Regions from separate parts of the Homo sapiens genome. Here region 2 is linked to region 1. The links come from fine-mapping of genetic effects on gene expression. Tissue or cell type: cerebral cortex. Region 1 holds a variant in brackets; the other region holds the start of a gene. All regions are shown on one strand. Distances are from middle to middle.

Region 1 (2,753 bases):
GAGTTAGACCACAGATTGAATTGGGGATAAGTACGTAGACAAGCAAATGAAAGAAAAGTGACAATTACCAATTTTAGGGAAAGTTAAAAAAAAAGTATGCATGTTATTTATGTATTACTGCTGCGTGACACATTATCCCACAACTTAGTGGCTGGAAACAAATAGTTTCTGTTGGTCAGGAATTTGGGAGTGGCATAGCTGGAGCTTTGACTTGGAAACTCTTACGAGTTTGTGACTCAGTACATCGGCTACAACTGCTATGCCCTAAAGCTTTGACTGAGGCTGAACAATCTGCTGGCTCCCAAGGGCAGGATGGAAGAAAACTCACAATATCCTCCTAATAGTTTACTTAATATTGAGCTAACCAAGTTATTATACTGTAACTATATTGAGAAGAAGAGCTGCAAGTGTGGCTTCATGAAATAGCGATGGGTACCCAAAAATATTTTGTTTGTTTAATTTTAAATCTTCATCTTCCGAAGTAAAAAGTCAATAGCTAAAGTAGATTTTTAGTGCCTAAAAACCTAACGATCTAGAGGTAGCAGTATAAGCATTTATCTTTAGATGTGCAAAGGTAAATACTAGAAACTCAGTTGAGTTGAAAGTGGTTGTTTCTGGCAAATGAGATTAGGGAGTCCTGGGAACTAACGTTTTACTTAAGAAATCTTGTTGCCTTATTAGACTGTGCACACTATAACTTTGATACTAATGATAGAATTTAGATTAACAAAAGGAAGCCATAAAAGTAATAAAGTAAATATAGGTAAATAGTTGCAAGTTGATGGAGTGGAGGAAGCAGGTCATCCTCAGTTTGATACCAAAAGAAGAACTCACAAAAGGCGGATTTAGTAGATTTGATTTCACACTAATCAAAAGCTTCTGTACATTAAACACAAGCATGTACAAAAGTGAAAGGCAAACACTAATCCAAGAAAAAAATCCTGATATACAAACCAAAGTGTGGTTAGTAAAATGTAAACTGTTTCAATCTTTTCAAAAATGTTAAATGTTTCAATCTGTCTCTAGGGCAGTTTGTCAAAATGTGTCAAAGCCTTGAACACAGTATACAGAATTGATCCTGTATGACTCTTAGTGCACACCAAGATTTACCTATTGGAGTTTTTGTTCATAATAGAAGAAAAATTTGAAACGGTTGCAATGACCAGCAGTAAGTGATGAGGTTACAGAAATAAAACGAGTGGTACATTTCCATTATATACCTGAACCACTCATTTTACTTCCGTAGCTCTTAAAAATCAGGAGAGTGAAAATGATATATTCTCATATAAAACCATTCATGATATTTCTTTTACTTATTAATTTAAAAATTATATAAAATTTACATATGCACATGCACACACAC[ATG/G]TACACACTGTGATTCAGGATATTACTGTTAATTTTTTCCTTTGGGGGTGTGTGTGTGTGTGTGTGTGTGTGTGTGTGTGTGTGTGTGTGTGTTGTCCTTTGCGTTTTTCTATCTCTTCCAGGTTTTTAACACTGATCAGGTGCTATTTTTGTAGTCAAGAAAAAAACAAGGGTGTTTTTTTGTTTGTTTGTTTTTGTTTTTGTTTTTGGTTTATTTGAAAGAAAAATGTGGAAAGTGCAAAGAAGAAAACAGTAATCATATTCTCACCACCCAGAATTAGCCACTACCAACATTTGGCATATTTGCTTCAGTTTTTCTTACTGTAAATTTAAAAAATATAAATAGCAACACTGAAACATTAACCTTGGCCATCTTTTAGATGCGGAATCGTGGCTGGGTTTTTCCCTCTCCTTTTCCTCCCTTATACCCCCACCCACCCCATCCCCTTTTATTTCTCAAGTGTTCTGCAATGAGCACGTTTTTCTGTAATAGTTGTTTTAAAGTTACTGTTTCTCGTGTGAATACTTTACTTTTTAAGGAGATAAACTGTAATTAACTGTAAAGGGTAGAATTTTTTAAATGCCAAATAAGTCTTTGACGTTTAGAAGAAGGTGAGAAGTTTTCCTGGGAGCAGAGAAAGCATTCCATATAGGTGGGGTAGCCATTTGTCCTGGTTGCCCTGGGCAGTCCAAGTTGTCCTGATGACGTGTACTCCAAAATGTCCCAGTTTGGGACAGGAAATTATAAGGAGTCTAGATTTGGGGGATTAATGAACAGCCACTTGGCTGAATCATGGCAGTTGTACTGAGTGAATAGGAAAAGTAAGGTTGAGAACATATTACAGAAGCACATTGAATACTAATGTAAGTTCCTCCACTGATTCTAGGGCTGAGGCAGGAAATGTACAAGATGCACTTGGTACATGTCGTAGAGCTGGAAAGTAAGGAAATACACACACACACTTACATACATACATACATACATACATACATACATACATACATACATACGTTGATGTGGATATGTCAAAGGGACACAGAAGCCAACTGAAAGAGCTGCCAGTGGTGAAAGCTGGAACAGTTTGAGCATCAAAATAATGTATTAGATTATAACCCAAAATATAAGATAAATATCTGTGAGTCCATACTGATATTGAATGGTTGAATAAATAAGAAATAGGATTCTGCATGATGGCTTCCTCCCAAGGAGTGCAGTAGGGAAAGGGAGAAGGGAGAGTAACTTCACAGTAGGAAGCTGAGAAAGATGACCTCAGCCTGGTGATCAAGGTTCACATCAGCAGGGTAAGGCATGTTGACATCGTGGACCCTGGGTATGATGTGGTGAGGATGGCTCTTCTGCTCTGTGATCTTCTACCCCAAAAGCCATA
Region 2 (2,623 bases), 70 kb after region 1:
GAAGCAGAGCCCAGGACCTTCTCACCAAGGTGTGGAGAGGGCCCAAGAAGGCCGCTTTAGGGCTGAGCTCTAGCCCATGGGCAGGAGCAAGGGCTGCTCAATACGTGGGGTGGTGGAGGAGGGGGAATGCCACAGGCTCTGCAGAGCGGGAGGCCCTACCGGTCCAGCTGCAGCCGCAGGGGCGAGGGGCTCTGGCGGATCTTGCTCTGGGCCTCGGCATGCAGCATGCCCTCCGCGCTTTCCCCGTTGATGGCCACGATTATGTCTCCAGGCCGGAGGTCAGCGTCCTTGGCTTTGCCCCGCTCGGCCACCTGTAGGGATGAGGAGCTGGCATGCTCAGACCGTGGCCCAGCTGGAGAAGGGACTTCCCACTCTGCTACCCAAGAAACACAGAGGCTGGCTTGACCCAGGCCGGCCTGCACCCTCCTGCATGTCCCTCTGCCTGCTCATGACACCCAGCTGATCAGCCATCCCCTCCAGGAGCGCAGGTGGCAGCCCCCACCCCACACTGGCATTCTAATGGGCCTCCCAAAGAATGTGCAGTGGCAGAATTTCAGGAACTGTGCTTGGAAATACTTTTGGATAGAGAGCCTTGCCCGTGCAAATCGCACCTTGCAGGTGGCTGCCTGCACAGCCCTCCTGTGAATGTTCCCAGCCTGGGCCCAGGTCAAGAGGAGACTGCCAAGAACTCCGGGGCTCTTGTTCTAGTAATCACCCCAAATGGCTGCCTGCAAGTGTGGGGATAGCAACTGGGGAGGCAAGAGCCGGCCCTGTCCTGGTCCCAGCTCCCTTTCACTCCCAAGGTCTGTTCCTGAAGTGGCCACCACATCCCCGTGGCAAAGGGCCACGGCTCCCTTACAGCCAGCACGCCAGGCAGCAGCAGATCCCTAGCTCCAGAACAGAAAAAGCAAGCCATCTGTGCAGAGTGGGGTGAACAGGGCCGACCTCGCTTCTGGCAGGACCTTCTCATCTCTTTGAGCCACCATCCTTACCTTAGTCACCATGATGGGCGTGTGGAAATCCCTGCCCCCTGTGATACGGAAGCCCCAGGGCGCTGGCCCGGCCACATCCACCGTCAACGCCATACCTGAGGAAGAGAGGACCAGGAGGTGAAGTCCATGCCCCTAGCCGGCTCTGGGGGCACTGTAAGGCAGCAGGAGAGGAGCCAAAGGGAGAAGGAGAGGGCACCACAGCTCCCGGAGCAGCTACTCAGGGGCTTTGGGGTGGGTAGAGGAAGTGGCTAACTCCCTCCCTCAGCCCGGTTTCACTTCCCCCCACCCTGGGAAGCCATGCTTCTGGGTTCTCCCTTCCTTAGTCTTCAGCCCAGGGAGCGACTCCCAGGAGGGGGCTGCCCAGGCTGCCAGGCAGGGGGCTTGCTGGAGCATGGGGGGCAGGGGCTGGCAAGTGGAGGGGATGCCAGCACCCCCTCAGTCTCCCCTCCTCCACCATCAGGGCTCAGTCCCACTAGCGCTTGCTTCCTGTCCCCAAAACCCACAGCACACGGTACTTCCTCTCCACTCTGGGGGAGGGCTGGTGAGTGGCCTAGGGAGAGCAGGGCTCAGGAAGCAGGAGTGACGGGTCAAGGAACAGGCTGGCACCAGTACAGACTGTGTAAGTCACTGGCCAGGTGAAGGACTGGTGGGGTGAGGCCGAGTCTTCACATGGGCCTCCTAGCTGCCCACCTCGTTCTTGGCAAAGTGGATCACACGGGCAAGACCGGGCTCCCCACCTCCCCCAGGGGCCGGCTGCCAGGGCAAGGAGGCCAGGGTTCATCTGTCAAGCTGGACACACCCACCCCCAGATTCCTGATGCTGCCCGACAGACAGCCGGGGTGACAGGCCTCCCATCCACAGCCCCTCCGCTGGGCAAGGAAGTGCCCTTGCAGACAGACCCCTGTGGGATTTCCTGAGCCTCTAGCTCTGGAGCCAGGAGCCAATCCAGGCAGGAAGCCGCGGTGCCAGGCTGGGCACCACCCTGCCCAGCACCCATCCTGGGGCTGCCCTGGGGACGCAAGTGCTGCGAGAATCTATCAAGAGCACCAGCGGTCTGTCCGCTCCATCCCCGGCTGCCTTCCCCTTGGGCCCAGGCCTAGCCTCTGTTCCCAGCACCGCCCCCACCCCAGTCCCCGAGGCCGGCTCGCGGCCGCCCCGAGATTCCCAGACCTTTGAGCCGGTCAGTGGACTCCGCGCTGCGGGCGCCGCGGGGAGGTGCCCAGCCCGATGGCCCGGCTCTACCAGTTCTGGAGCCTCCTTCGCTCCGAGGGCAAAGTACCCTGCGGGCTGGGGGCTGGAGGAGGAGCGCTCCGGCCGGGGAGAGCGCAGCTCGCGGGGGCGCCCCCGCTGATGCGAGGCTCCAGGGAGCTGGGCCGCGGACGAGGCCAGGGTTCCGCGCCGACAGGGGCGCGGAGAGGAGCCCGGCGCCGGGGAGGGCGGGCCGCGCGGAGAGGCGCAGGTGGGCGCGCTCACCTGGCTGCCGCTCACCTGTCCGGCTGGGCGCCCAGGCCCGGGAGGGAGGGAAGGCGGGGAGACGCCACCGCTCCCGCTGCCGTCTACCCGACTCTGGGGAGAGCCCGCCCGGGGCTCCCGGACCTGCCTCCGCCCATGTGATCCCGGGGCCGCCCCTG

What was found. PIP is the estimated chance that this variant, and not a neighbour inherited with it, causes the effect.
Region 2: PDLIM2 starts here. The variant in region 1 is fine-mapped to the expression of PDLIM2 in cerebral cortex (GTEx, PIP 0.96).

Annotation. Positions count from the first base shown.
Region 1 is chr8:22,648,518-22,651,270 of GRCh38, reverse strand. The region is part of intron 1 of BIN3 (bridging integrator 3); the gene reads left to right. Among named protein-coding and RNA genes, the nearest start is that of BIN3-IT1, 7.7 kb to the right of the region's middle. The variant ATG/G (reference allele first, on the strand shown) is at 1,364.
Region 2 is chr8:22,579,067-22,581,689 of GRCh38, reverse strand. PDLIM2 (PDZ and LIM domain 2) reads right to left here and starts at 1,215. Exons shown (of 9, transcript NM_001368120.1): 1 at 993-1,215; 2 at 160-311. The coding sequence starts at 1,085. RefSeq lists silencers at 1,179-1,268, 1,999-2,158, 2,169-2,258, 2,359-2,428, 2,499-2,623.